Linked DNA regions of Homo sapiens: regions 2, 3, 4, 5, 6 and 7 are each linked to region 1. The links come from fine-mapping of genetic effects on gene expression. A gene starts in region 1. Each other region holds a variant in brackets. All regions are shown on one strand. Distances are from middle to middle. Region 1 holds the start of CPQ (carboxypeptidase Q). Region 2 overlaps CPQ (carboxypeptidase Q). Region 3 overlaps CPQ (carboxypeptidase Q). Region 4 overlaps CPQ (carboxypeptidase Q). Region 5 overlaps SDC2 (syndecan 2). Region 6 has its middle 95 kb from the start of PTDSS1. Region 7 overlaps LOC101927066 (a long non-coding RNA gene).

What was found. PIP is the estimated chance that this variant, and not a neighbour inherited with it, causes the effect. A credible set is the group of variants that fine-mapping cannot tell apart.
Region 2: its variant is the best candidate, but not a certain one, in a credible set for the expression of CPQ in whole blood (TOPMed, PIP 0.53).
Region 3: its variant is the best candidate, but not a certain one, in a credible set for the expression of CPQ in whole blood (TOPMed, PIP 0.80).
Region 4: its variant is the best candidate, but not a certain one, in a credible set for the expression of CPQ in visceral fat (GTEx, PIP 0.89).
Region 5: its variant is the best candidate, but not a certain one, in a credible set for the expression of CPQ in skeletal muscle (GTEx, PIP 0.71).
Region 6: its variant is the best candidate, but not a certain one, in a credible set for the expression of CPQ in whole blood (TOPMed, PIP 0.70).
Region 7: its variant is the best candidate, but not a certain one, in a credible set for the expression of CPQ in whole blood (INTERVAL, PIP 0.70).

The regions. Positions count from the first base shown.
Region 1 is chr8:96,642,765-96,647,307 of GRCh38, reverse strand. CPQ (carboxypeptidase Q) reads right to left here and starts at 2,066. Exons shown (of 8, transcript NM_016134.4): 1 at 1,906-2,066. RefSeq lists a silencer at 1,642-2,191.
Region 2 is chr8:96,820,299-96,824,841 of GRCh38, reverse strand. The region is part of intron 2 of CPQ (carboxypeptidase Q); the gene reads right to left. Among named protein-coding and RNA genes, the nearest start is that of CPQ, 180 kb to the right of the region's middle. The variant A/G (reference allele first, on the strand shown) is at 2,437.
Region 3 is chr8:97,076,783-97,081,325 of GRCh38, reverse strand. All of the region lies in intron 7 of CPQ (carboxypeptidase Q), which reads right to left. The region is part of intron 2 of LOC101927066 (a long non-coding RNA gene); the gene reads left to right. Among named protein-coding and RNA genes, the nearest start is that of TSPYL5, 200 kb to the left of the region's middle. The variant T/G (reference allele first, on the strand shown) is at 1,876.
Region 4 is chr8:97,053,126-97,057,668 of GRCh38, reverse strand. All of the region lies in intron 6 of CPQ (carboxypeptidase Q), which reads right to left. All of the region lies in intron 2 of LOC101927066 (a long non-coding RNA gene), which reads left to right. Among named protein-coding and RNA genes, the nearest start is that of TSPYL5, 220 kb to the left of the region's middle. The variant G/A (reference allele first, on the strand shown) is at 1,749.
Region 5 is chr8:96,597,031-96,601,573 of GRCh38, reverse strand. All of the region lies in intron 2 of SDC2 (syndecan 2), which reads right to left. Among named protein-coding and RNA genes, the nearest start is that of CPQ, 46 kb to the left of the region's middle. The variant T/AT (reference allele first, on the strand shown) is at 2,032.
Region 6 is chr8:96,354,893-96,359,435 of GRCh38, reverse strand. No RefSeq gene overlaps it. Among named protein-coding and RNA genes, the nearest start is that of PTDSS1, 95 kb to the right of the region's middle. The variant C/A (reference allele first, on the strand shown) is at 2,250.
Region 7 is chr8:97,145,446-97,149,988 of GRCh38, reverse strand. All of the region lies in intron 2 of LOC101927066 (a long non-coding RNA gene), which reads left to right. Among named protein-coding and RNA genes, the nearest start is that of TSPYL5, 130 kb to the left of the region's middle. The variant G/T (reference allele first, on the strand shown) is at 1,921.

The DNA of each region.
Region 1 (4,543 bases):
TGGCCCTTTTCACCAAGCAACATGTGTATTCCACTTCTCCTTATAAACTTGAATTCACTGAAGTAGGTAACATTAATTTCATTTTACTTAACACATTTGGAACTTTGTGTTTGTTAAATGTAGCATGCAAAAATATTTAAATATGTATGTATAATGACTTTTGAAGTGCCTTTAAAAAATCTCCAAGGTCCTTCCAGCTCCAAAATGTGATCTATGATAACTAATCTCAAATGCATGCGAAGAAATAGTGATGCAGTTCCCCAGATATACTGGGAATATATGGCATTGTCAGACTGGGTTGCACTGGAAAAAAGTCAGACCCAGGACCAGGAGCCTGTGACAATGTAGAAGAAAATCTTACCCTCCTTTCTCCCCACCAGCCTAGGGTTTATTACACTTATCTTGAGCTCCCAGGCTTTCTTGTTGCAGATGTGGAGAAGAAAGGAAATGAGCTGTAAACAGCAAAGAAGAGAGCAGAGACAAAATGCTATGGGAGGTGAAGTAAGCAGAACTCCATGAAATCATCTGTAATTTCACCTTCTAACCCTGATACAAAAGAATCCCAGAGGTTTAACTCAGGCAGGGTTCCTAGCTAAACATCTTCATTTTGGAGATTAAGAAATTAAAACCTAAAGAGATCAAGTGGCAAGTCCAAGGTCATCCAGCTCTTCTGGAACCTGGACCTGGCAAGTAAGAACGGCTGCAGTGACCAACTGTATTAAAGCTATGTGCTAAGCCTATTTGTTTACAAACAGATAAGCGTCTTTCTGGGCCTTATGTAGCCTTCTTCAGTCACCTGCAAATCAGCCAGCACCTGTCTCAGGAAAACAGACAAGATTCTTAACAACTCTGAATTCAAAAGAAAAGCCTGGTTTTACAAACAAGTCAGAGTCATATGGTTCTGCCTTCAGAGTCACCCTTATCTTTAAGAAATACATGAAATAATATTATAGTGACAATGATTCTTTAAACGTCCAAAGTAGAAGTGAACAAAACACAAGCAAGAAAAAACCTAGGCATATTTTGTTTTAAGCAAACACATATAGCCAAGTCCAACAAAAATGGAAATACCAGGGGGCGTTTCCAGAGACCATTTGAACAGCATAGAACTCTTTTTAAGTGGTCCCAATCAGAATGCCTCCATTTGCAAAAGTGCGACATTCACACAACTTTTTGGAAAGCTATCAAAAAACAGGAGTTGTAAGCCTGCGTCTCCACTGCTTCCACTTCATACATCTTTATTTTCACTCATGCACTGATTGATTCAGCTGTATCTCGTATGCACTCATTTATTCACTTACTCATTTGTTAATTCACTCAGTTCTACGGCATAGGTACTCATTCAATTACTTATTGAGTAGCTCTGAGTCCTAAGTCAGATGGGACTTTGCCCTCATGGAACTTCGATTCTAGGAGAGTCCAGTAGCAGAAACTAGACGCATCAAAAGCGAAAGTACACGGTAAAATGCGAAAGGAACCCCAAAAGAACTGCATAAGGCATATTGGAGGCTCAGGGGGACCAGGATTGTTTGCAGATGGGGGATGAAGGGGGCGGCTTGGGGCTGAGCCCTGGAGCTGAGGGGAAGTGAAACCGTGTTGGGAAGGACGGCTGAGGGCCGTGCTCGCTGCTGTCCCGCAGCACCCTCCACCACCCCCACGTCACAGCTTCCCCATTTCTAGGCTCGGTGACTCCACTGTCACCGAAGGGGCAGCCACAGGCTCCCAACCCGCCGCTCCCCAGCCAGGTCCTCCCGTCACGCCCCCGAATGAGCGATGCTGGAAGTCCGTCCCCCTCTGCCCCCGCCCCTGGCCTGCTCCAGCCTCAGCCCGCCCGACCCCCGCGGGTAGGAGCCAAGGCCTCGGCCCAGCCGCCCGCGGGCACTGCCAGTTCGGCTGCAAACACACCTGATAGGGCGGCTCTGACGGCGGCGACGGAGGCGGCTCCCAGGACTAAGCTCGCGGCCTAGCCTTACGGTGGCGGCGGCCACACCCCTGACTGGGCTGGGGCCCTCCGCGCCGCCCCGTGACTGCAGCCCTGCTTGCCGGCCAGGCCGCGGGGCCGAGAGGCGGGGCAAAGACCTGACTCGGGAAGCCGGGGCGGGCGCCGGGTTCGGGCTGGGGGCCACCTCCGGAACGCCTGGGGGGTTCTCACTCGCCCTCCAAGGGCGACCTCAGGGCCACAGATCGGCCGGAAGGCTTCTCAGCTTCTGGGCTGTGGCTCCTGTTAGAAAATTGAGTGTCGCCCTGGGTCCCGAGCCCCTAGGCCTGACTCCTTCGTGCAGGGGCGTCGCCTTCAGACTGGGTGGTGCGCAGGCCAGGGCCGCGTGCTTTTCAGAAGCGCAGCCTCAGGCGAGGCGGGCGGCAGGGGCCTGAGAAGGCTCATGGCTTGGCAGAAGGGTCCTGTGCTTCAGTGGGTGCCCGTGCAGGTGGAGAAGGACGGGGCTGCGAAGCTGAAAGGAAAACGTGAAAGGTTTTTGTGTGTCTCTGAGCCTGAGTAAAGGCCATGCTTTCTGAGCTGTCAAACGCCTCCCAAAGGGAAGAGATTATTAAACCGTTTTCCCACCCTGCCAGGTGTAGGATTGTTAGGCGGTGATGATGGAAGGCAGAGATGACCCGAACTGAGAGATCAGAAAAAGCGTTTTCTCTTTCGTTTGTGCCTGAATTATATGAGGGTGCCCAAGAAGAAAGGAGACTCATCTGATTACCCGGTGTGGCTTATCTCAACAAGTCACACGCATTCTGGTCACAGAGTATGTGCTCAGTGTTTTCAATGCTTTATGTTTTGATAAGTGCAAATTCCTTTGTTTAACGAAACTCTTATCAAATACAAACAGTTATCTTTGTGAAACACTGAGCAGTTCCAGTCTCTCCTCTTAACTAAAAAAACCAAACAGAACTTTTAATTAGAAAAGAAAAGAAAGAATAAGCACATGCCTACTGGGAAAAAAAAAATACCATAAAATGTGCAAAGTCCACTCACCTTCGGTTAACAGTCCCTCTAAACCTTACTAGTCCTGTTGCCCACTGAAACAAGTGTGAACTCTGAGGCATTGGAGGGTCCACATAAACATGGCCCTGGCCCACCTTTCCCGAATCATCTCTCGGATGCCATATCTAACCCCACTGAATTACTTTTTTCTCAAACTATCAAGGGTAAAAGACAAGTTTTTATTATTTCCAATCTGACATGGACCATTATTTCTGTAAAATACAAATCAAAACCTGCTAGCAAATAAGAAAAGAGACAAAAACTACAAGCCCAGTTTTTATTACAAGTGTACAATGAGTATGCCAAAAAGTATAAAATTAGTTTTTCAATTATTGGTTGTTGTTGTTGTTTTTATTTCTAAATGCTTACTCACAATTTCTATACTTACCTGTTCATGGAGCAGTAAAAAGCTGTTCACTGACTGGCGGTGGTTGGATTACCGTTTAAGTGGCACTGACTTGCTGTTCTTTAATTATGTCAAATGCTTTTCAACTTCTGGGCCTTTTCTCATGTTTAATGTGAACGAAGTTCTTTCCCACTCAAGTTTCAACTCGTAATAACAATAAAAGCTTCACATTTATTGAGTGCCTTGTGCTAAGATTTTTGATGCATTAACTGTGAATTCTTATTTGTCCTATGAGCTACCTATTATTATCATTATTATTTCCCCCCACTGTACAGATAAGGAGATGGAGGATTAGAGAGGTCAAGTCACAAAACCAGTGAGGTACAAAGTCAGCATTAAACTGAGCTGGCCTGATTCTGGAGCCCAAGCAATCAACCAACATGCTGGGCCCCTCTCTGTGAAACCTCCCCCATTTGCTTTCAAGTTGAAATTAATCACTCTTGCTTACACCTCTACTCTAACATTTTTTCCCGTTGGTTTTCATTCATGTCAGCTTCCCACGCTAGGCTTTAAGCTTCTGAGTACAGTGAATTTGTCTGCTCACACTAATCACAGGAAGCAGAGCTCATTCGCATCTTTGCATTACCACTATCTTTTATGCTTACTTCATGATATGTTTTAATTATTTATTCTTGTCAGCATCCTCTACTAAACCATACAATGTTCAGAGTTATCTTACCAAAGATGCTTTTATTTATTTAATTGAATAAGCATTTCTATAGCATGTATAATGAGCCAGGTACTATTCCAAGAATTTTAAAACCTCGCAAATAGACCTATAGATATTATTTTATCCCTCTTTAAACTGTGAGGAAACTAAGGCATAGAGAGGTTGCAGTAAGTTGCAGGACCAGAATTCCAAACCAAGCAACCTGCCTGGCTCCAGAATCTATTTCTGAGCCACCATGCTATGTTGATTTTCCACAATACCATGTGTTCTTCCTACTTAGAACACTTCACTGCAGGGAGATCAATCCATAATGGCCAATTAGAAGCCCCTGCCCGCAGCACTCAGGGAGGAATGAGAAGGGGCAAGTGAATTCAGTACCTTCAACTGAAATATCCAGGTTCTCTCATTGGGACTGACTAGGCAAACCACCGGCCCATGGAGAATGAAGAAAAGTTGGGCAGGGTGGGGAGCCCACCTC
Region 2 (4,543 bases), 180 kb before region 1:
GCCATTTATCCCCAACCACTGAAATCAACAAAATGAATAGGAAGTTTTTAATAAGCTTTTGATGAGCTACCAATTAAGAAAACCAGGCATCCATTTAACAACAGTAATAATTTATTAATCCACACCAGAAACTTAGGCACATACGCTATGGTAATAGAAATATTATTGCTATAGGAGCTCGTAGCTTGATTCATTCCCAAGGATCCATGTGGACCATTTGTAATCCCCGAGCCATATTTAAAACCACTATTCTATCTATACAATTTTGTCATGGAGTCCAAAACTTTAAACATTTGCAGAATTTCCATTGGATTGTAGGGTAAGGATTTCAAATATTTAAATAAAAAAATGATGTGTGTATAGATTCAATATAAATTCAAGTGCTAAAAGGTGATAATTCTTCAATTTAAAAGACTTGAGTGAAAATAATGATATCAGAAATAGCTATTGTATGTGTACTCTGGCCAGGAACCATGCAAAGATCTTAACATGTATTATTTAATGTAATCCTTATGTCCCTATATGATAGGTATTACTGCCACCCATCGGTAAATATATTGACATGAAAGCTGAGACTTGACCTAGGTCACATAGTGTGGTTGGTAGTACATCTAAAATTCAAACACAGACCTATCTGATGGAGATCTATTTCTAACAGAAAGAGATGGAGAGAGAGCAACAGTACTTCTGGTCATTGAATCCTCATCTGATTATTCATCCATACATTTTATCTACAAGATGCCTAAATACTAAACATAAAAAATTTAGAGGCCATCTCCACTAAGAGTTTTAGCACATTATCTTACACAGCACAATGCATTTACTAGCTGCCATGTAGATTAGAATATGAAGACATAGAATGATTGTTGCTGAGTGGTCCTTAAATGTATATTTTAATCTTTCCCTCTTTGTTTAACCTAGAACAAAAGTTAAAGTAAAACTGTCTTATCAAGCAGATTTATCTGACAGTCACTTCAGGAAAGATTTAATTAAAATAATAATAATAACGAACTAGCATTTCTATAGGTCTTACAATATGCCAGGCACTGCTCTAAATGTTTTACTTACATTAACTCAGTGGATTCTCTCGACAGCCCTATAATGTAGGCACTTTTATCACCTTCATTAAATATAAAATACTTTATTTATTTATACTTGTGTTTTACTTATTTCCTGACTTATTACCAAAGGAATTTGAAGAGACTTGCAAAATTACATTGAAGAAAATAAAAAGAAAGGAAGAAGGTAAAGAAAGAAAGGAAGAAAGTATAGTAAAATAAAATAACGCTACAGATAATATTATCAGAAAAAATATCCATCATAGGATTTGTGTAGTTGCTGGAGAGGACCATAAATTTAGCTACAAACTTCCTGGCAAACAAATCAAAAAGCAAAACATAATCAGGCAGAAGATTCACAATGTCCATAATAGGAAAACAAGCCAGTTGCTTAAGAGTAGCACAAATTTCCCATAAGAAAGTTATTTGCCTACAAGAAAATTATATAATTAAAAATGCCATGTGATACAATAATGTACAAAAGTCCATTTCTACCATGAGTATAAAATGTGGAATGTAACTCCTCTTCATCCCTCCATTTCCATTTTCTCCCTCTCCCTTAGTAATAACAGTTTTAATTTTGCTGGGAAGATGACTGTCTAGAGTTTTAAAAAGACCCCATTTTCTAGCTTCCCTGTAGCTAGATGTGGCCATGTTACTTAAAGGGGGTGGCATGTCTTTATCCTGGTCACTCAAATGCAGATGGAAGAAGCCATCCTGGATGACGAGGTAGGCTTGGAAAGGAACATCTGGACAGTGGAATCTGGGTTGCTAACACTCTGGTGCATAGTTATCTATAATTTCATATGACAGAGAAAGAAACTTCTATGGTGTGTAAGCAACTATTGTTTTGGGTTTTCTATTATTTTTAGCTAACTGAAGAATGAGGGGGACAGAAAACTTCTTTGTATTAGGTGATCAGGGAAGACTTCTCTGAGGAGATATTTAAGCTGAAAAACTGAAGGATTTTATGCTAACGAACTATGGACAAGAAGAATGGAGACAAGAATACTCATTGCAGAGGTCACTGTACCTACAAAAGCCTCTAGGCAGGAAAACCTTCACAAGAAGCTGAAAGAGGATTTTTGTGGCTGGAGTGCAGTGAGAAAGGGCAAAGAGAAACATGAGACAAAATCTGACAAAAAGGCAGGAACCATATCATGCAGGACCTCCTGGGCCATGGTGAAGAGTTAGAATTTGTGTTGGCAGGGATAAGTAGAAAAGGGAATCCTTGTACACTGTTGAAGAGAATGTAAATTGAGAATGCCATTATGAAAAACAGTGTAGAGGCTCCTCAAAAAATTAAAAATAGAGCTAAAAAATTAAAAATAGGGCTACCATATGACCCAGCAATCCCACTACTGGGTACACATATCCA[A/G]AGAATATGAAATCAGTATGTCAAAGAGATACCTGCACTCCTATGTTCATTACAACATTATTGACAATACCCAAGATATGGAATCAACCTAAGTGTCCATCAGTGAATGAATGGATAAAGGAAATGTGGTATATAGGCACAATGGAATTACTATTCGGCCTTACCAAAAAAAGAAATATTGTCATTTGCAACAACTTGGATGAACTTGAAGGCCATTATGTTAAGTAAAATAGGCCAGGCACACAAAGAAAAATGCCATCTGAGCTTACTTATACGTGGAATCTAGAAAACTCAAATTCATAGAAACAGAGAGTAAAATAATGATTACCAGAGATGAGGGAATGTAGAGATTGGGAAGAAGTTGGTCAAAGGACACAAATTTTCAGTTAGAAAAAGTTCAAGAGATATGTTGTACATCATGCTGACTATAGTTAATAACAATAGATTGTATACTTGAAAATTGCTAAGAGGATAGATTCTAAGTGTTATCACCACAAAAAAATGTTAAGTATGTGAGGTAATGGATATGCCTGATTTGGCCATTACACAGTGTACATACATATCAAAACATCACACTTGTACAGTACAAATCATATAATTTTTACTTGTCTAATTAAAAATTAATTTTTAAAACTGTAAAACCCAAGAGCTGAAAAATGAAAAAAGAAAGGAGAGAGAATTTATTTATTAGTCAATGAAAGAACAGTGTCTGGCAAATAGGAGGGGTCTTCAAGAAGTTCATGAAAAATGTGTATTATAAAAAAATAGATTTCAACTTTTTTGCATCAAAATAAACTCATACTAATTTATTATAACATATCTGAACAGAATCTAGTTTGAGGCACTAAGAAGGATAAGACATCAGTTTTAAAAGAGCCCCTATCAAAAACTGGATAGCTATATGCAAAAGAATGAAATTGGACCTCTATTTCCCACTATACACAAAAATCAAATCAAAATGGATAAAATATTTCAATAGAAGTCCTAAAACAATGAAACCACTAGAATAAAACTTTGGAGAAATGTCCCAGAACATTGGTCTGGGCAAATATTTTTTGTTTAAGACCTGAAAAGCACAGGCAACCCAAGCAAAAATATATAATTGGGATTATATCAACCTAAAAAGCTTCTGCACAGCAAACAATCGACAAAGTGAAAAGACAACACACAGAATGAGAGAAAATATTTGCAAACTATCCATCTGACAAGGGATTAATAACCAGAACATATAAGGAGTTCAAACAACTCAATAGCAAAAAAAAAAAAAAAAAAAAAAAAATTCAGATTAAATATTGGGCAAAAGGTTTGAACAGACATTTCTCAAAAGACATACAAATGGCCAAGAAGTACATGAAAAAAATGCTCAATATCCCTAATCATCAGAGAAATGCAAATGAAAACCACAATGAGACAGCATCTCACCACACACAATAACAGATGCTGGTGAGGATGTGGAGAAAGGGGAACCTTCATACACTGTTGGTGGGAATGCAAATTAGTACAGCCTAATGTACAGTATGAAGGTTCCTCAAAAAACTAAAAGTAGAACCACCATATGATCCAGTAATTCTACTACTTGGTATATATCAAAAAGAAAGGAAATCAATACATCAAAGAGATATCTGCACTCCCGTGTTTATTTCAGCACTGCTAACAATAGTGAAAATACGGAATCAAGCTAAGTACCCATCAACAGATGAATGAAGAAAGAAAACGCCATATATATACACAATGAAATATCATTCAGCCATAAAAATGAATGAAATCCTGTCATTTGCAGCAACATAGATGGAATTGAAGACCATTATGTTAAGTGAAAAAGTCCAAGCACAGAAAGACAAATATCATATAGTCTCACTCACATGTGGGAGCTAAAAAAGTAGATCTCATAAAGATAGAGATTGGTAGTTATCAGAGGCCAGGAAGGGGAGAGGGGAGAAGAGTCAAAGAAACAAATAGAATATAAATGCATTTATTACCACTGAACTACACACTTAAAAAAGATAAAGATGGTAAATTATATATGTATATTTTAGTACAATAAAAAATATTTTTTTGAAAAAGAGCCCCCATCAGTGCAACATGAATTCTGCTAAAATTGAAACAA
Region 3 (4,543 bases), 430 kb before region 1:
AATGACTACAATGATCAGGGTATCTCAGATAAAATCTTGTGTGAGGAGTAGTGAGTCTGGAATCACTGACCCATCTAAATAAACAATGGCTTTATTTCTGCAGTGCACTTCGCAGTATAGTGCTAAAGGTATTAAACAATATCTGTGTGTAACTTCATTTTTAAAAGTTTTTCAAACATGATATTTATAATAATCAATGAACTATTTCTGTAAAAATGTAGATTTTATAAAGATGTATCCAGCAAACATTTTTCTCTTAGGTTTAAACTTCCAAAAATGAGTATTGGTGAAGTCCACGCTATGTTTCTACATAAGATACTATTCTCTTACATGACAGTAAACTATTCAAGCTATTACAAAAAATACATGTATAGAAGGAAGGAAGGAAGGAAAGAAGGAAGGAAGGAAGGAAAGAAGGGTGGGTACTAAGAATACTGAGGACACACTTCATATCTCGTCCTATGATAGGCAACGGATCACTCAGGTCTCAAAAGATGCATAACTAATAGATTTCACAGAGCTCGACCATATTTGATTTATAGATTATGAACTGGAAAGAATTAAGACAGCAAATGTCATATTTTAAAAGTAAGTTTAGTTATCATGAATTATGCAATCTCATACATTCTTATAAAAAAATGGAATAAAGGGGACACTTAATTCACTGTGTTAAAAGTCCCCATGAGGGGGATATGTAAGAATGTTAGGTTAGGTGGCCACTTCTGAACTTTAATACTGAGCAAAGGGAAGAGTTTAAGCTAATGAAATTATCCAAACTAGGCAGTTTATTGTATAACATTAGATATAACTTATTTTTATAGTAAAAAGTCCTACCCAATTTTAACTCAGTTTTACCAAAATCTCTTTAATTGTGATGTTTTTCCTGTGATTTCTAGAATCCTATAATTGATTAAATTGATAAGCATATTTTTTAGCAAAGCTCTTATAAGAAATCAGTGAAATGTTACTCTAAGACTGAAATGTCACTCTAAGACTTATTTGACTCCAAGTTTCAACGAGCAGATTAAGTATGTCTAATTAGAGTCAGACTTTATTTGCTCACATCTGAGACTTCAGAAAACCACTGCCAATCGCAATGCAATGCTATGTGGGGCTACTCCATCTCTCTTCAACTGGAAGACTTAATTTGGCAAAACTTCCAGTAGCAAAACATCGAAGAAAATGCAACTTTTCTAGGAAATTGCTAGAAGACATGCAGTCAATCAGCAAGACTTGTGGATCTATGAGGGTGGGTTTTGTCTGGAGTCCTTCCAAGGAGAAGGATCTGGGTTAGCCGGAGCCTGCCCAGTGGCTAGGATTGTGCCCTAGCATATTTCACTCCTGCTCAAACCTTCAAAAGTTTCTAGCTGTCCTGAATCCTCAGAATGACCTTCAGATCCCAACTGAGATTCCAGGCAACGCTTTTAGTTTTCTATTTCCCTATATTAACTAAACTTTGGTCCAACCCGACTGGTTATCATTTTAAATACCCCTCACATTTTCTTACCTACAGAATGTTGCTCATCTCCAATTTTTGACATGGGATGCATTCCCTCTACATCCAGCACATTTTATTATTTCCTGATAATCAGGTGAAATGCCACCTCTTTGTGAGGCCCCGGCAGTTTAATACCTTTCTTTTGGCCTGAACTCCTATTGTACTCTGTTCTTCTTGGGTCTCAACCCTCCATTAACTCCTTAAGGACAGGGACTGCATCTTATATGTGACACGGGAGTAAAACAGACTGTATATGTTAATTCTAGCTTCTCTACTTAATATCTTTATGACTTTGGGCAAAGGAAACTCCCTGATTCCCAACTGCCTCATTTGAAAATTGGTCACATAATAATAATTTATACTTCAAAATGTTCTTA[T/G]GAAATTATGAGATAAGTAAAGCATCTATCATAATTTTGACACATAGTAAACAACAAATATATGTTAAATTCTCTCCTTAAGCCTCTTTTCCAATTGCTTCATAGCATTTACTTGGGTTTCTTAAATGAATGAGTGAATGAAATTGTGAAATTGAGTCAGGTCTAAGAAGAAAGAACAGGCAATAGTATCCTGAGGATCTAACTATGACACTCCAAGGTAATTCATAAATCATATAATGATTCCTACTCATATTCTCTTCCCCACATTATAAAGAAAAATTAGAAAATAAGCATTTAAACATTTTAGAAATCAATAGTGGAGGTTTTAAAACAAAAATAATAAAAATGGCCAGGTGCAGTGGCTCCTGCCTATAATCTCAGCACTTTGGGCAGCCGAGGTGGGAGGACTGCTTGAGCCCAGGAATTCAAGACCAGCCTAAGCAACATAGTGAGACCTCATCTCTAAAAATAAAAATTTTAAAAAAATTAGCTGGGCACAATGGCGCCAGCCTGTAGTCCTAGCTACTCGGGAGGCTGAGGTGGGAAGATTGCTTGAGCACAGGAGTTTGAGGTTGCAGTGAGCTATGAATGTACTTTTGCACTCCAGCCTGGGTGAGATCCCATCTCTAAAAAAGGAGAGAGGGAGAGAGAGAGAGAGAGAGAGAGAGAGAGAGAGAGAGAGAGAGAAATGGAAATGATATCATATTTAGAGTAATATGCATCATAGGTTAACAGAAATTTGTACATCTCTAGTAGAATATACATACTAAAAACAAAAAGAACTACAGAAAACTCTTTTCAATAGTTATACTGTTGGTGATCGTGTTGATACTGTTTTTCTGAGACTACTGGGTGTGTATTGTGGGATAAAGCAAATGAGTGATTATGTTGTTCCACTGAGAGCCAGGATTGTAGGCAGGGGAAAAAGAAAATGCAGATGTAACATCAGTGAGGTAAAGTGCAATTTTATAGTCCTCAACTTAAATTGGAAATATCATATAATTAGTAATATAATTTCATGTTGGAGAAAAAAAGTGTTTCCTAGTCCTGTCTGCTGAAAAGACCTAGAAACAATGAACAATCCAGTAGCAACACACACACTTACTGTTCAGACTGTGGCCTCTAAATACTATGACCTAGGAAAATAAATTGGATTCTTTGAAGAGATAGCTGATTTCAGATCTAGGGCAGGACATGTACAAGATAGCCTGAAACAATTTGTCCTATCAGAAAGCCAGGATGATATCAACAACTATGAGGGTCATGTCAAAAGGACTCAGAACCAGTTTAAAGATGTTTCAATTGGCCAAAGATGGGACAATTTGAGCATCAATAAAATAGCTACTACAATGGAATGAAACACATCAAATATTTTTAAATCCATCAGTTAATAATGACACAAAAAATAAATAAATCATCTTTGGGTGATACTAGTAAACAAACTGATGGTTTAAAAATAGGTAAATAAAGAGAAAGAATGAGGCATTTATCCTACCTTCTTATACAAAAGTATCTCAGAGTAACTGAATAGCTGATAAGGGGAAAGTTCTGTTTGCATAGATTTATTTAAATTAATAAAGAAGGAATTACATGATTAGACTGTACCATTCAGAATATACTGAAATTAAATCTAGTTGGCCTTTGAACAACATGAGTTTGAAGTGTGTGGATCCACTTTTTCAAATATTTTTTTCCACAAATTTTTTGGAGATTTGTGACAATTTAAAAAAATTCTACAATGAACCACATAGTCTGGAAATATCAAAATAATTAAGAAAAAGGTATGTTATGAATGCATAAATATATGTGGATGCTAGTTTATTTTAGCATTTACTACCACAAAGTATACACAGATCTATTATAAAAAGTTAAAATTTGTCAAAACATATGCACATAAACACAGATTGTACATGGCTCCCTTTGCAGATGAGAGAAATGTAAACAAATGTAAAGATGTAGTATTAAATCATAACTGCAGAACATTATCTGTAGTACATACTGTACTACTGTAGTAATTTCATAGCTACCTCCTGTTGCTATTGTGGTGAGCTCAAGTGTTGCCAGTATCTGGTAAAATGCTGCGGATGCTAATCACCTCTATGTGAGCAGTTCATCTCTCCAGTAAATTGCATATCACAGGAAGAAGTGATGGCTCTCACATACTTTTCATCACATTTAGTGTAATACTGTAGACCTTGACTAACACCATAGGACTCATACAATGTGCAACTAGTGATGTTGGAAGTGCTCCCAAGAAGCAGGGAAAAGTCGTGACTTTACAAGAAAAAGTTGAATTGCTTGATATGTACCACAGATTGAGGTGTGCCACCGTGGTTGCCATTTCAGAAAATTCATCTTGTAAACAGATGGTATTGATAAATAGAGTACGGTACTATAAATGTATCTCTTCCTTATGCTTTTCTTAACAGTTTTCTCTTCTCTAGCTTACTTTATTATAAGAATACAGTATATAATACATTTACAAAATATGTGTTAATTGACTATGTTATCATAAAGACTTCTGATCAACAGTAGCTCATTAGTAGTTAAGTTTTTGGGGAGTCAAAAGTTATATGCAGATTTTTGTGTGCAGGGCTCAGCACCCCTAAACTCCCTGTTGTTCAAGGGTCAACTTCAAATGTATCTAGGCTGCTAATGTCATAAAAAG
Region 4 (4,543 bases), 410 kb before region 1:
TCTAGATTAAATAACAGAACTAAGCACATAGTAGGTGAACAATAAATGTTTAAGGCAAAGGAAAAGTCACAATTTGGAACATTTTGACACAGCCTTAAAAGCAACTTGAGGATATAATTTAGCTCTAGCTTGTGGCTGCCAATGTGAGAGCGTGATTGATGTATTACTGAGCTCTCATTATCTAGGAAGAGAAAGTGCACCACCATCTCCTTGAAAAAAGCAATATTTTTTTCTAGCGCTCAGTTCTAAGGGGAGTAATTACATGGCTCTTTATATGAGGAACGCTGGACAAAATAATGGACACAGTCTCCAATAACAGTTTTACAAAAGATGCAGAAACACTTTTCCTAACACTATTTCTTACATATTGATCCTCAATTAAAGCCAAAAGCAAAATATTAAGTCACATTTCAGTAAATGTGTTTTTTCAGGAAGCAAAATGTATTTATTCAACAGTTATTTTGACGTAAACTTGAGTGATAGGGTGACTATACATTTTTGTTTGCCCTAGGAAGTCCCAGTTTACATCCCCTGTCTTGGTGTTAATTAACAGAGCCTCCTTTCTCTTGCAGACATTTCCTGGTTTTAATAATAAATCATATTTCCAACCTACATATGAGGGTATCTATATATGAAGATGACTAAGATAGGGTTGCTTTCCTAAAGGAGGGGAGAGTTTACCAGCAGAGGCAATAACTGGCTAATACATTAAATGTGATGAGTTCTATGAATATGTACAAAGAAGGGAAAGCAACTACTGAAAAATGTTGGCAAAAGCTTGATAAAAGAGGTGATGTTTGGCCTCAGCAAATACCCTAGACTGAAAGTGTTCCCATGAGAGCAGGGATCTTGTTAGTTCATCAGCATATTCTCAGAACCTAGCTAACGGGCACTTGAAAATACTTGTCAAATGAACAGATGACTTTATTCTAAGCATCCAACTAATGTCCAGAATGTAGCTTTCCAAGAGAGGATCAGAGCTTAGGCAATCTCTAAAAGGATAAATATAAGCATGTTCTGTAGAGTATCTCACTCTCAAACATTGGTTGTCCCTCCTAGAATTTTTGTAGGCATTAGCAAAAAATTTAAAGTGGAAACCATTAGTGAGCACCAAATTTCAAACCTGTGATGGAGCTGCACTTGACATTTGTTTACTCCTGGAAATGCATTCTTGCCTTGGCTTCTGGAACCTCAGACTCTTGGCTCTTTTTATGCTTTACTGGATGATCCTTCTCATTTTTCTTGGCTGGTTTTCTCATCCTCCTGACCAATAGAAATTGGGGTGCTCAGAAACAGACTAAAGGCCTCTTCTTTTCTCTATCACACTTACTGTGTTGGAACCCTTATTTAGGCTCATGGTTTTAAATAAATCTGTATGGTGATGAGTTCCAAATTCATATTTTCATGCATCTCCTGAATTCTACACTCATATCCCACAGCTACTCAGTACCTCCACTTAGATGTCTAATTGTGTATTAGTTTCCTATTGCTGCTGTCACAAATTACCACAAAGTCACTGACTTGAACAACACAATTTGTGTGTGTGTGTGTGTGTGTGTGTGTGTGTTTTGAGATAGGGTCTCACTCTGTCACCAAGCCTGGAGTGCAGTGGCATGATCTTGGCTCACTGCAGCTTTGGCTTCCCAGGCTCAAGCAATCCTCCCACCTCAGTCTCCTGAGTAGCTGGGACTACAGGTGCACCACCACGCCCAGCTAATTTTTTTGTGTTTTTATAGAGGAAAAGTCTC[G/A]CCAGGTTGCCCAGGCTGGTCTTGAACTTTTGGGCTCAGGTGATCCACCCACTTTGGCCTCCTAAAGTGCTAGGATTATAGGCATGAGCCACTGTGCCCGGCCTAAAAATTTATTCTCTAACAGTTCTGGAGGTTGTAAGTCTGAAATAAGCCTTACAGGGCTAAAATCAAGGTGCTGGTAGAGTTGGTTTCTTCTGGAACTCCTCTCTTGCTTGTACACCCAAAATGCAATCTATCAACAAATCTTGTTGGCTCTATTTTCAACATAGACTTACTCTCCGACAACTTCCCATCAGTTTCCCTGTTCTGACTCAGTCCAAGCGACCACCAGCCTTCACGTGGAGTACTGCAGTAGCATCCTGTCTCCGTTTCAGCCCTTGCCTTCCTTCAGCCTATTTAGAAAATGGGAGAAATGATCTTGGTCAGGGAGAATCTGAAGGTGAGAGTTGAGTTATTATTTATTTGGCTTTATGACTAAAGAAGCCTCAAGTTGTCTACAGAATATGGACTTGAACCTCAAAAGGCTGAAAAAGTTAGCCACAAAACCATCTCTATCCAATTACATCAGCTGACTTATTGAAGGAAAGGTGGTGCAACCAATGGCTTTAGGAACTGGTGGCAACAATAGCCCTGGAGAAAGGAGAGAGGGGAGTGAGACATCAGGAGGAGGAAGAAAACAGTTCAGAGAGACTGATTCCAGTGAGGATCATGATGATGTGATAAAGGAGGCTTGTGGAGAATCCAGACCCTAGGACCAGGGGATCTTCAAGATGAAGAGACAGAGCCTCTAAGGGCACTATATTCCCTGGAGAGCAAAACCAACAATCACAGCATTGAAAACATAGAAGCTGAGCTTCCATTGGACAGGGGGACAGGGGTGTTGTGAGAGGGTAACTATTATTTTCCATTCAGATGGAGCATTTATATGAAGAAAACTCCATGCCTATGGCTATCTGTAGACTTCCCCCCTGAACTCTATACTTAAAACATTTTGTTATTTCAATAACTTTAGGGGTACAGTGGTTTTTTGGTCACATGGATGCACTGTATAGCAGTGAAGCCTGGGATTTTAGTGCACCCGTAACCCGAATAGTATACATTATACCCAATAGGTAGTTTTTCATCCTTCATTCACCTGCCATTCTCCCCCTTTCTAAGTCTCCAGTGTCCATTATACCACCCTGTTTGTCTTTGCATACCCATGGCTTAGCTCCAACTTATAAGTGAGGACATGTGGTATTTGGTTTTCCATTCCTGAATTACTTCACTTAGAATAATGGCCTCCAGTTCCATCCAAGTTGCTGCAGAAGATATTATTTCACTCTTTTATGGCTGAGTGGTATTCCGTGGTATGTATGTAACACATTTTCTTTATCCACTTATCTATTGATGGACAGTTAGGTTTATTCCATATCTTTGCAATTGTGAACCATGCTGTGATAAATGTACATGTGCAGGTGTCTTTTTGATATAATGACTTCTTTTCCTTTGGGCAGATACCTAGTAGTGGGATTGCTGGATAGAATGGTAGATATACTTTTAGTTCTTTGAGGAATCTCCATACTGTTTTCCATAGAGGCTATACTAATTTACGTTCCCACCAGCAGTGTATGAGTTCCCTTTTCACCACATCCACGACAACATCTATTGTTTTCTGATTTTTTAATAATGGCCATTCTCCCAGGGGTAAGGTGGTATCTCATTGTGGTTTTTATTTGCATTTCCCTGATGATTAGTGATGTTGAACATTTTTTCATATGTTTGTTGGCCATTTGTATATCTTCTTTTGAGAAATGTCAATTCATTGAACTCTATACTTTTTACCAAACTGCCTACTTGACCTCTCCACATGAAAGTCTGATATCTCAAACTTAACAGGTTCAAACCCATACTCCTTATCTCCCCCTTTTCCCCCTGCCTAACTCCCCTCATTTCAGTTGTTTGGGCCCCAAACTGTCAGTTTATGCTTGACTCCTCTATTTCTCTCATACTCCATATGCAATCCACCATCAGATTCTGTTCGCTCCTTCCTTAAAATATTATCTGCAGCCTGACAACTTGCTATGCCTTCCACAGCTATCATCTTGTTCCAAACTACACTCTTGTCTTGCCTAGGCTATTATCTTTCTTCCATTCTGGTTCCCCTTTAGTCTGTTCTCAACCAAGCAGCCAGAATGATTATTTTAGAAAGTTGATTCAGATCATGTTTCTCCTATGCTCAAAAGCCTCCCATAGTTCCAACCTCACTCAGAGAAAATGGCCCATGGGGCTTGACTCTGCCTGGGCTTCTTTATATTGACTTCTTGTCCTACTGCTTTCCTTTCACTGCTCCATTTCAAGCACATTGGCTTCCTCCCTATCCCCTGAATGTCAAGCATGGCCTCCAGCAGCACCTTTGGAACAACTCTCCATCTTCGCTAGAATGCTCTCCTCCAGGTATCCACGTGGCTCTCCTCTTCATCCTTTCAGGTCTTAACCAAATATTACCACCTCCATAAAGTCTGCCTTGTTCCCCTCTATCAAAAATTAAAACAGCCCCCTCCTCATGTACTCTATCTCTGCTCCCTGTTTTATTTTTCTCCTTAGCAGTTATTTTCATCTAACATACAATTTTACTTATTTATCCAATTTATTATCAGTCTTGATTCACTAGAATGGAAGCAAGATGAGGGCAGACCTCAAAACACTGCCTGGCACTTAGTAGGCTCTCAGTAAACATGTGCTGACTGAATGAATAAATATATGCATGTATGTGTGTGTTTAAACACATATGTGTGTATATTTGTATATGTGAA
Region 5 (4,543 bases), 46 kb after region 1:
TGCCTTCCAGGTTGAAGTGATTCTCCTGCCTCAGCCTCCCGAGTAGCTGGGACTACAGGCGCATGCTACGACACCCAGCTAATTTTTTGTATTTTTAGTAGAGATGGGGTTTCACCATGTTGGCCAGGATGGTCTGGATCTCTTGACCTTGTGATCCACCTGCTTCAGCCTCCCAAAGTTCTGGGATTACAGGCGTGAGCCACCGTGCCTGGCCCTCTCCTGGTTTTACAGGCAGATTTTTCCAGTGGGGGTGGATACTCACTAGGTCTTGTCCTCATCATCTTCTCCACTCTGCATTCTACTCCCTCCAGGAGCATTTTCCCTGTCATCACTATTAATACTGTTTTGTTAAGGTCACCAGTATCCACAGCACCCAATGGCACTCTTCAGAATCGCCTTCCTCTAGTAGAAGAACTTCCTAGCACCACTGCACACTGTCAAGTGCCATCTGCTTCCGGACAAACCCTATTTCTTTGGGTTCCTAAGAGTTCCTGGCTTCCCCCTCACCTCTCTGGCTATTCTAAGTTTCCTTTGCTGGTTTATCCTCCTCTACCTCAACATCAAATATCAAAGAGTATCTGAAGGTCTGTCCCTAGGCCTCTTCTTCCTCTACACTTTCTCCCTCATCCATGTCCACAATGTCAATAAATGATGAGTTAAGCACAGATGATACCTAAATTTACATCATCGGCTTTTACCACCCCTCTCAAAGTCACATATCCAGTGGCCTTCCTGGCATTTTCACTTGAATGACTCAAAGGTACAACACACCTCTGAACATGTCCAAACCAGAACTCATGGTCCCTTTGTCTTCTCCTCCTGTGACCTTGCAGTGACTGAAGCCCTCTGTTCCTACACACCAGAACTCTGACTTCCTCTTCCTTACCTTGTTTTTGAATCCATTATCCAGTCCTATCAATCTTATCTTCTTATTATCCCTCCACTCTTAACACCGTTCTACAGTTCCAGGGCCACCACTCCAATCCAAGCCACTGTGACCTTTCCATGAAACACTGTACCTGCCTTCTTCCTAATAGGCCCCTGAGTGCCTAACATAGTGTCTAAGACATAACAGGCTCTGATCTGGTATTTGTTCAACAAGTGACTTTCTACCTGAGCATGATTTTTGTTTGTTGTTGTTGCCTTTTCACTAGAATAGCATTTGAGAATTTCTGACATTCAAATACAACATTCCTTTTAAGTTGATCATTTGTCAAATTTGTAACAACTCAAACAAACTCCAACTCTGTAACTCAAACTAACCAGGCTTCCTCGGACAACACATTGATAAATACCTCTAAATTCCTCAAACAAAAGAAAATGGGTATTTTCCACAGAATCGCATCAATGTAATAAGCAGGTGGGAAAGCAACACATGCTGGAAACATGTGCAATGGCCATGGTTCACTTCTTTCTTTTTCTTTTCTTGCTCTGTCACCCAGGCCAGAGTGCAGGGGTGCGATCATGGCTCACTGTAGCTTCAAACTTGCGGGCTCAAGCAATCCTCTCACCTCAGCCTCCTGAGTAGCTGGAACTAAATATATGTGCCACTGTGCCCAGCTAATATTAAAAAAAAAATTATTATTATTTTTTGTTGTTGAGACGGGGTCTCAACTATGTTGCCAGGTTGGTCTCGAGCTCCTGAGCTCAAGGGATCCTCCTGCCTGGGTCTCCCAAAGTGTTGAGATTATAGGTATGAGGCACTGTGCCCGGCTCCTGGCCGGTTCATTTCTTAATTTATCAACTGTCTCCTTTAATTTCAAAACATATATATTCATTATTATACAGAAGAAATGGCAGGGCATGTTGGAATAAATACAGGGTTTGGTATTAAGAAAGCAAACAAACCTAGTACTGGTTCTGGCATTTATTAGCTCTGTACTCTTAGGCAAGTAATACTTGAGTCTTGGTTTCTTCATTTGTAAAATGGGGCTAATAATAACTAACCCACGAAGGTACATATATATCACAGATACATATCTAACAGACATGATACATATTTAAAGCATTCTATATAAACTGTTACGTAAA[T/AT]ATAGGTCATTAATAATGATGGGTCCAGAAATATAATGCTGTTTTATCAGGTGACCTAATTATCTATCAACATTTTACATATAATATGCTTAATTTGTTCCTACAATGAATCATTTTCTTACAAAGAATAAAACTTCAATGAGAAATGAAAAATTTCAGTCTAGGGCTTTTAAAGACCCTCTTGTTTCACAAGAGTTACCAATATGAGTCATCAACCTAGAAGTGGGATGAATCTGTATGAGGGAAGAGATTTGTAACGTAGAAAATCCCCCTTAAGCTGGCACTTTTAAAGTTAAAGACAGGGCCAAGCACAGTAGCTCGCGCCTGCAATCCTAGCACTTTGGGAGGCCGAGGCCGGTGGGTCACGAGGTCAGGAGATCAAGACCATCTTGGCTAACATGGTGAAACCCCATCCCTACTAAAAATAAAAAGAATTAGCCAGGTGTGGTGGTGGGCGCCTGTAGTCCCAGCTACTTGGGAGGCTCAAGCAGGAGAATCACTTGAACCTGGGAGGAGGAGGTTGCAGTGAGCTGGGATACCACCACTGCACTCCAGCCTGGGCAACAGAGTGAGGCTCTGTCTCAAAAAAAAAAAAAAAAAAAGATAGAGACAGATGGGCAATCTGTCTCAGATGGCTCTGCTGCTTTTAATATCTTTATTAAAAACATTAACTCTTTTGCTCAAACCAGAAATCTCGAAGCCCCACTGAATATCTCCTCCTTCAGGTCCTACTGTTCTCCCTGTCTGAAATAGACTACTCCAAGGCCTGTTTCCCTCTGGGAAACTCCTGCTCTCACTATCAAGTACAGCATCAATATCACCCCCTCTCTGAAGCCTTCCTTGATCTCTCCACCAGGGCACCGGTTCTGTCTCTATGTTCCCATGCTCATTCTCTTATTTTTTTTTGTTATTTATTTATTTATTTTGAGATGGAATTTTGCTCGTCACCCAGACTGGAGTGCAATAGTGCAATCACAGCTCACTGCAACCTCCGCCTCCCGAGTTCAAGCGATTCTCCTGACTCAGCCTCCCAAGTAGCTGGGATTACAGGCATGCGCCACCACGCCTGGCTGATTTTTGTATTTTTATTAGAGATGGGGTTTCGCCATGTCAGGCTGTTCTCGAACTCCTGACCTCGAGTGATCCACCTACCTCAGCCTCCCAAACTGCTGGGATTACAGGCGTAACCCACCACACCCAGCCTTATTTTCTTTTTTAAAAATAACATTTTCTTTTACTTATGGTATGAATGTGTCTCCCCAAAATCCATGTGTTAAAACCTAATCTCCAATGCAATAGTATTAAGAAGAGGGACTTCAGGAGATGAGCAGGTCATGGGGGCAGGGCCCTCATGGAATGGAATTAGTGCCCTTCGGAAAGAGGCTTGAGGGACACTGTTTGTCCCCTTTGCCATGTGAGGATGCAGCAGGAAGGCACCATCTAAAAAGTAGTCAGAAAGCCCTCACCAGACACCAAATCTGCTGTGCCTTGATCTTTGACTTCCCAGCCTCCAGAACTGAGACCAATAAATTTATAAATTACCCAGTCTAAAGTATTTTGCTATAGCAACCTGAATGGACTTAGACAACTTATAAAAATAATACTTTTTAAAATACATTTGCATGTATGAATTTGGAAACACAGAAGGAATAAATACAATTAGCCTATCGCCAGAGAAAACATTGTTAGATTTTATTTACTGAAGTGTCCCTAGAACCTAGAATGGTGCCTGTTCTCCCATGTACTAAGTGATTAAGAAATACTTCCTCAATGAATGAATATCCTCTGTGTCTTCTCACCTTCCAAATGAGCTTTTCATTTTTGACACGACAGTCCCACACTCTTAAGAACTCTTATGTCTCAGAACATTCCTGTTTTATAGTATCCTGTTTTTGTGCCATTGTTCGAGCATCTGCTTTTCTCTCTGAATTTACTATGTTTTTCTGTGAATTTTTTTCTTCCTGTAAGTGGCTGTCCTCTCCCAATTTGGGGGTTTCTCTTTCTCTCATGTTACAAGTTTTTCCTAAATATCTGGGGAGCCTTGGTTGCCTGTTTATATTGAAGAGGGAAACACCGAAAAGAGGACTAGAAGCTTTGAGCACACAGGAGAGGTGTGTCAAATGTAGGCAACATCCCCTCGACTGAAATTTTTCATTTCTCATTGAAGTTTTATTCTTTGTAATACAGAGCTGTACGTTTCACTGGAGAGCTCCCATGCCACTCTCTTTGAATTGGTCCAGCTTCCCAGAGGGGAGCCTCCCAGTCCCCTACCCAGAGGGTAAATGGACAGACTGCCAGTGTTCTGGGAACTGACTGGGAGAAGACAAGACAACTTGGGATCACACCATATTAAATTATTCTTAATCTAAGAACTTATTTTCTCTGTCTTACATAAGGTACCCCCAGCCCCATCTGTTCCTGAAATACCCCCGGGTTCTGTTTTACCCTCTCCAGATAATAAATCTCCAGGTTTCCCTCTGAGGGCAGGGAACATGAGCCCCTTTGCTACATG
Region 6 (4,543 bases), 290 kb after region 1:
CTGCAAGATCTAAATTGGTCTTGGAACGGAGAACACAAGGAAGGGCCAAGGGACCAGCTGGGCAAGGAATCAGCTCATTAGTAGCCTCTATGGAGGTGTTGAAATTGAGCAAGTTAAAAGCATATTAGTTTAAATGAGACTTTTCACAAATGAGGGGAAGTGTTTAGGTAGGAAGCAGATGTAATCATTTTGTGATGGGGCATAATTTGATAATTAATGGAGAAGTTGTCAGTATAATCTTGAGGGAGCCCCAGGAAATGAAGAAATCTGTCTTTATTAAGGGAAACTCAGGAGAAAAAGTTATTGGAAATGCAAGTGATTCACCAGCAAGGTCCTGGTGGCAAGTCGTTATTAGATGTGCATGTTGGGACCGTCTTTCTGCCACATCTGTGTGTTTTGTCTTGATTCACCAGGCCCACTACCTCTCCTAATGGGAATGCAGAGAATAGAGAACATTGAAGGCGGTTGTGAAGCAAACCCAGGCTTCTTTCTTCCGTGCAGACGGGCTGGCCAGCGTCTGCTATGCTTAGCAGGAAAGCAGGGAGAGACAAGCCTAACTGGCTCCCTGGGGGCCAGCCAGATTTTGACTCCCTAAAGCCTGTGCAGCCAGGGTTCAGTTTCCCAGGGAGATGCTAGGAGTGTGCTTCCATGGAATATGTGAGCCCATGGAAGAGCAAGCCCAGGGAAGCACAATCCTAGTATCCCACTGGGAAAAGAGGCTGGGTGGACTCCCACTTGGCCAGAACAGGAGTCCAGGAGAAAAACCCCACAAGGGTGCCTATGCACAGTGATTAAGGCACGGGCTCTGGAGCCAGAATGCCTAGGCTCAGCTCTCCACTTGGCCACAATTTCTCTTGACATTAAGTGTGCTATTCAAGGTCTCTGTGCTTCAATTTCCTGGTGCCTATCTCATAGGGCCAAGGATGGGAAGAGTAATTCTATGTAAAGGACCCACAGCAGTGCCTGGTGCTGAAGGTCTGCTCAACAAGTGTAGTTAGCATTTGCCGTTAACTACTAGCCATGTATGGCATTTGAGCACTGGAAATGCAGCCAGTCTTGGTTGATATGTGCTGTAGGTGTAAAATGGACATAGAATTCAGACTTTGTGCAAGAAAGAGAATATAAAATATCTCATTGATAATTTTTATATTGATTACATATTGAAATGATAGTATTTTGAATATATTGAGTTAAATAAATACATGTTATGAAAATTAGTATTGCCCGCTCTTCTTTTCTTATTATAGTAAAAAACACTAACATAAAATTTACCCTCTTAACCACTTTTAAGTGTACAGTTCAGTAGTGTTAAATATGTTCACATTGTGGTGAAACAGATCTCCAGAACTTCTTCATCCTGCAACTCTGAAACTCTATACCCATTAAAAAACTCCCCATATGCCTCTCTCTTCAGCTCTGGCAACCAACATTCCACTTCTTGTTTCTAGGAATTTAGATATTTTAGATACCTCATATAAGTGGAATCATACAGTATTTGTCTTTTTGTGACTGACTTCTTTCACTTACCATAATGTCCGCAAGCTTCAGCCATGTCATATCATGTGATAGGATTTACTTTCTTTTTAAGGCTGAGTAATATTCCATCCTTTTTTTTTTAGGGTGACTATTAGAAAATGTAAAATGTATTTGTGGTTCCTATTATATTTCTACTGGATAGTGCTAGTTTAGAACTAGCGGTTCTCAACCTCATCAGTTCCAACCCCTCCTTACCACAATGAATTTGTAACACTCTCTTCACTCTCCTGAAATAAACTGTATAGATAAAATAACTCATATGCACACATAATTTTTAAAAAAGAACAATATAATAACCTAACTGTAAGTATATAGAATAAATGAAAGGAATCTATAGAGAAAAAATATATTTTAATTTACTGTTAGACATGACCACTTAATACAAAATAATCAGATGCTTCAATGAATATGTAAAATCACCACTAATGGGATAGGTATCAATGCAGAGTAGTAACTCAAATTTTAGGAGTGATGTTGCCAGCAGAAACATGATGTCCTGAAATGAAACAGCTCAGTAAAATTCCAACAAAACAAAGTACAATTTTCTCTCTATTTATATGGTTACATTCTTACAAAAATGCATGTAAATTTAAATGAAGTAAAATATATAGGTATATATGGAAACTGTAATTAGGTTCTGGGCTAAGAGACTTCAAAATAGATTTTTCACCTAAATGAAAGCCCAATGAGATATTTACAAATCAAGAGGACCC[C/A]AGAGAAATTTTTCACTTTGCAGAGCTGCCCTGTGCATTGCAGAACATCTTGTTTCCCTGTGTCACTGTATATCTATCGAAGGCCTATACCATCCTTCAACCACTGGGACAATCAAAAGCATCCCCTCTATTTTCCAGTGCTCTCCCATGGAGGCAGCAGAGCCTCCACTGAGAAGCAGCGATACTGAATTGTGAGAAACACAGTGTGGTGATCCCAAAGGTTCACTGTTCAGGAGCTGCTCGGCTTTTCTGCCCGGTGGTCTCATCCATCCGCGGTTCCCACCATGGCTTTCAGTAACTCAACGTGAGGGGAGTCCTCTGGTCCAGCAGTAACCACTCTCCAGCACAGACCAGAAGGCTAGATGCTGAAGTTTCTCCAGAACTTCAAATACAACAGACTCAGCCCTTTTCCCTGTAAACCCATGCCTTTCCTTGACATCTTAGTTTCACTGTCACCAGTGTTTTCTCCAACCCCACCCCGACCCTTACATAAGGCAGAATCACCAAAGCCTCTTCTCTCTTTGCTCATGGCCTCCCATTTCCCCTGCTTCCAGCTTCCCTGCCTCTCCCTTGGATCTGCAGGTTTCTCAGTGGCCCCTCATTGCTCTTCCTCACTCTAGTCTGCCACCGCCACTCCATCCTGTTCATCACAGCCCATGAAAACTGGGAAGCATGAGGTCAGCATTCAGTTCTTTGCAGTCAGGCCCAATGTTCCTTTACAGTCCTCCAGAAGTCTCCACCAAGAGCTCTTCCCTTTCATCTGAGTGAGAGGCAGCATAGCCTAGTGGACAAACTCAGGCTAGGATCAGCAAGAGCTATCCTGTATTGACCTAGCCCTGCACAGTCATGAGCTGCTGAATGATGGGATATGTTCTGAGAAATGTGTCTTTAGGCGATTTTGCCATTGTGCGAAACATCATAGAGTGAATGTATACAAACTTGGGTGGTATAGCCTACTACACACCCAGGCCATGTGGAATAGCCTATGGCTCCTACGCTAAAAGCCTGTACAGCATGTTATCATACTGAATGCTATAGACAACTACAACACAATGGTAAGTGTTTGTGTATCTAAGCACACCTACACATAGAAAAGGTGCAGTAAAAATATGGGATAAAAATGTTTTAATGGTACATCTGTATAGGGCAGCTCCATTATAATCTTATGGGACCACCATTGTATATGCGGTCTGTCACGGACTGAAATATGGGTTTCTTTTTTTCTTTTCCTTTTTTTAGAGACAGGGTCTCGCCCTGTCACCCAGGCTGGAGTGGAGTGGTATGATCACAGCTCACTGTAGCCTTGAACTCCTGGGCTCAAGCCATCTTCCCACCGCAGCCTCCCCAGGTAGCTGGGACTATTAGGCATGAGCCACCATGCCCGGCTAATTTTTTTTTCTGTAGCGATGAGGTCTTGCTATATTACCCAGGCTGGTCTCAGACTCCTTGGGCTTCAAGTGATCCTCCTGCCTCCACCTCCCAAAGCTCTGTGGTTACAGGCGTGAGCCAGTGCGCCCGCCCTGAAACATGAGTTCCTATCCAAACTTCACTCCTTATTAGCTGCCTCTGGGTAAATGAGTTAGCCTCTATGTACCTCCTTCTTCCTCTATAAAATAGGCTTCACCATATGTGCTCTGTGGTGCTGTTATAGATAATTAAGAATGTGCTTGTAAGACACCAAGGACTAGGCTGGCTTGTAGGAGAAACAGCCACTGCTGGGTCCCTAGACCATGTTTTCTCTTCTTCAGCATTGTTCCTTCTCTCTACACATTGAGCCAAATATTTGCACAAATTTCCTGTCATCTCAGTCAGACAGTTATCCCATAACAGACCATAAGGGGAGCTAAGACCTCATTTCACTAGATATGGACTAAGACAAAAAAATATGTATTTACTAGAAAACAAAAACAGCACTTTCGGTGGACTGTAAAGTTCCCGAGGGCCATGAGAAGTAATAACTGATGGGCACTGAGCCAGCAGGTAACTGACTGTACAGCTCTGGTTTTGCGGGTGGGGTGGATGTGTTTGGGAACTGCAGAGGCCATAGAGACTGTCCGCCCTGGCCCCTCAGTCCTGCATGCCCTCTGCACTCAGCCTCAGTCTCTCTAGCAGGTGAAATTCAAGCAAAGATTTTTAACACATCAATTTGAAGGAGTGTCCGATGCATGCCAGCCCTGGGTGCCTAGTGTCTTCTCCTGGATATGGCTGCATCAATGCTCAGGCTGTCATTCACAACTCCAGGGCCCACCTGGTCTGGGAAGCTTTTCCCATTTTGTCACTCCCTGGCCATCCTT
Region 7 (4,543 bases), 500 kb before region 1:
TTTGTGTGTGTATTTTTAGTAGAGACAGGGTTTGGCCATGTTGGCCAGGCTGGTCTTAAAAACTCCTGACCTCAAGCGATCCGCCCACCTCAGCCTCCTAAAGTACTGGGATTACAGGCATGAGCCAAGGCGCCTGGCCAGAAAATTTAACTTTCATATTTAACTTAGCAAAGCCTAAAGTTAGACAATATCTTTATCCTGTTCTAGAGCAATACAAATGAACTCACAGAAAAAGGCTATCTGGAACCCACAGAAGGGGCCAACTAGGTCAGGAGAAGGAAGGGGATGTTGGTCGCACTTAGAATACTCACCAGACCAGTTTAAAGATGACTTCCAGAAACTATTTCTACATGACAGTTAGGCCCAGGCACGATGGGTCAACAGTGCCTCACTGGCAGGACAGCTGCAGAGGGACATCAGCAGAGACCCTCAGTTCTGGAGAAATAAGTGGCCGTCAGAGCTCACCTCCAGGTCAGTCGGACCTGTGGGGAACCAATGAACTGCAAGCAGGCACCCACAAGGGTGGATCCCATATGAGCTCCTAAATTTATTCTTTCTGCCCACTGCACAGACAAAATCAATTGCCTGAGACCATGGCATTGCAGTAAAGAAAGAGTTTAACTGACATGAGGCCAGCTATGCAGAAGAACTGGAGTTATCACTCAAATCAGTCTCCCTGAAGGGTCAGAGGTTAGGGTTTTTATGGACAGTTTTGTGGGCAGGGGACTAGGGAATGGGTGCAGCTGATTGGTTGGGAATGCCATCACATCACTGGAAGACTGTCCTTGTGCAGTGAGGCCACCTGTGGGCAGAGCCACAGGACCAGCTGAGTCATGAGTCCAGATGGGATCAGTCTGAAAAACATCTAAAAAAAAAAAAACTCCCCAGTCTTAGGTTCTACAACAGTGATACCTATAGAAGCAATTGGGGAAGTTATAAATCTTGGGACCTCTGGCCACATGACTCCTGAGCAGTAAGAAATTATAGAAACTATGCCTACATTTTAGCAGAACTTGGGCCTCTCCCATAATCCTAATCTTGTGGCCTTTCATTAGTCTTACAAAGGCAGTTTCAGCCATTGAACAGGGAGAGGGTTAGTTTCAGGGAGGGACTATTATCATTCTTGCTTCTAAGTTAAACTGTAAACTAAATTCCTCTCAAAGTTATCTTGGCCTATGTCCAGGAATGACCAAGGACAGCTTGGGGTTAGAAGTAAGATGGAGTCAACTAGGTCAGATTTTTCTTACTGTTATAATTTTGCAAAGGCAGTTTCAAAAGGACCTTAGAACACTAATTCCAGTAACTTCACGTCTTATTCACATGCTATTCCAGTGAAATATATTCTTTCCATCTTGTTTTCTTTTCAAATACCACCTTATTATTGTGGTTTTTATTTATTCTATGTTTGTTTAAAACGGTTATCACTTTCTTTGCTCTTAATTTCTGTCCAGTGGCCAGGATTAGGTGGTCAGTCAGAACAATAAGCCAAACTGAAAGTTAACAATCAAGCCTTAATCACTTACAGAAATAGTGTAAACAAGAGGCAAAAATAAGCACCAGCTTCCTAACATTCCATTTTTTCCCCAGGGAATGGCAGTAGGCAAGGGTCAGATGAATCAGCTCAGACAGGGAAAATCATCTCACTACCAAAGAGCCCTGAACAAATGACTCCTGACATTTTATGGTCCAGGGGACTGACAGAAGGGAGTAGGGGAAGTCTAGGACTAGAAAAGTACTGGGTCAGAGTGGATGAAAGTATCTTGGTCATAAGATAAGGAGGCCTTGAATGGAGGTGTTTGGGTGAGGAATGGGTGGCTGCCCTAGGCGGCCTGAGTCCTTGACTGCAGCTCCTTCTGGAAAACTGTAACCCACTGGCAGAGCACTAAGTCAGCTGTGGGGAGGTGTATTAGTCTGTTTTCA[G/T]GCTGCTGATAAAGACATACCTGAAACTGGGTAATGTATAAGGAAAAGGAGGTTTAATAGACTCACAGTTCCACATGGCTGGGGAGGCCTCATAATCACAGCAGAAGGTGAAAGGCACGTCTCACATGGTGGCAGACAAATGAGAGCTTGTGCAGGGAAGCTCCCCTTTATAAAACCATCAGATCTCATGAGACTTATTCACTATCATGAGAACAGCACAGGAAAGACCTGCCCCCATGATTAAATTACCTCCCACCAGGTCCCTCCCACAACACATGGGAATTGAGGATGACATTTGGGTGGGGACACAATCAAACCACATCAAGGGGGCAGCTTTCTCCCAGTAGCGCCTGCCAGGCAAAGCCTTTGTAATGCCTAAAGTCAGGCCTGGAAAGTCACATACAGATTTTGATTTTGGCCTGGAGCCAATCTCCTCACTTCTTGTATATTAGTGTCCACTCTATAATCATTTAATTTTGCCTAAAGGACACTTTTTCTAATTTCCTGTAGTGAAGACCTGCTGGTAGTAAACTCTTTCACTTTTTTTTTTTTTTTTTTCTGAGACAGAGTCTCACTCTGTTGCCCAGACTGGAGTGCAGTGACATGATCTTGGCTCGCTGCAACCTCTGCCTCCCAGGTTCAAGCGATTCTCCTGCCTCAGCCCCCTAGTAGCTGGGATTACAGGCACGTGCCACTATACCCAGCTAATTTTTGTATTTTTTTTTAGTAGAGATGGGGTTTTGCCATGTTGGCTTGGCTGGTCTTGAACTCCTGACCTCAGGTGATCCACCCGCCTCACCCTCCAAAGTGCTGGAATTACAGGCATGAGCCACCATGGCTGGCCAACTCTTTCACTTTTTAATCTGAAAAATATCCTTACTTTGTCCTTGTTTTCAAAAGATATTTTCCCTGAGCACAGAGTTGTTAGGTTGATAATTGTTGTCTCTCAGCATGTGGAAGATCTTCTGGCTTGCATTGTTGCTGTTAAGAAGTTAGCTAAAAGTCCAATTGTTGCTTTTTTCAAGATAGTCCATCTCTTCTCTCTTACTTCAAAGAGCTTCTTTTGTCTCTTCTGGTCTGTAGTTTCTCTAAAATATGTCTTTTTATTTATTCTGTCTGGGATTCACTGGGTTTCTTGATTTTGTGTATCTAAATTCTGGAAAATTTTGATTTATTATGTCTTCAGATAATTCTTTGTCCCATTTTCTTTTTTCTGAAACCCTGATTAAACACATTAGACAATATAACTCTATCCTTCATATTTCTTAACCTTTCATTTATATTTTCCATTCTTTGTCTTTCTGTGCTAAATTCTCATAAATTTCATCACTATTGTCTTGCAGTTTACTAACTCTCATTAAATTGGTTAAATTTGTCCCCGAATTTTAAAATTTCACTGAGTATAATTTATATTCCCTAAAGTTCTATTTGGTTCTTTCTACAATATGCTTGGTCATTTTTTTTTATGGTCCCATGCTCTCTATTCTACTTTCAAACTCTTCTTTGACTTCCTTGAAATAATGGACATAGCTTAAATAATTTTAACCAAAAAATTCCAATATCAGAGGACACTGTGGGTTAATTCTTGATCTTTTTTTGTTTGCTCTTGCTCAGAATGCTGTGATTCTTTTTTTCCCCTTTTTGTTGTGAGTTAATATTTTATCTAACTTTATAAGTGGGAATTTCTTCAGACCCTCTACTTAGCTTTTACTCAATCATGGTAACTTTCCTTGCAGACCTGAGAGTTATTTTTGTTCACCACTGTATTGAGGTATAATATTTTGGGGTCTCATTTTTGTTGGAGTTCTATAGTATCCTTAATGTGGCAGAATCTGGAATTTGTCTACAATCTCCTGATCTCTGAATGGAATTTAAGTTTACCACATTCCTTAAACTTTCTCAAAGAGAAAGCTTGTTCAATGTTTTATGTATCTCCAAATGACCAACAAACTTATAAAAACATGCTCAACATCACTAATTATCAAGAAAATGCAAATCGAAACCACAATGAGATACCACCTTACTGCAGTCAGAATGGCCATTATTATTATTTTTGAGACAGGGTCTTGCTGTCACCCAGGCTGGAGTGCAGTGGCATGATCACAGGTCACTGCAACCTTGACCTCCTGGGCTCAAGAGATCCTCCCACCTCAGCTTCCCAAGTAGCTGGGACCACAGATGCATGCCACCATGCCTGGCTAATTTATTTTTATGTTTATTTTTTGTACAGTAAAGGTCTCACAATATTGTCCAGGCTAGTCTTGAACTCCTGAACTGAAGCAATCCTCCTGCATTCCAAAAGTTCTGGGATTACAGGCACGAGCCACCATGCCTGGCCCCAGAATGCCCATTATTATAAAGTCAAAAAACAATAGATGTTGACTGGATGTGGTAAGAAGGGACTGCTTATACACTATTGGTGGGAATGTAAATTAGTACAACCTCTACGGAAAACAGTATAGAGATTTCCCAAAGAACCAAAAGTATATCTACCATGCTATCCAACAACCCCATTACTGGGTATCTACCCAAAGGAAAATAAGTCATTATATCAAAAGACACTGGCATACATATGTTTATCGCAACACAATTCACAGTTGAATAGGTATAGAACCAATCTAAC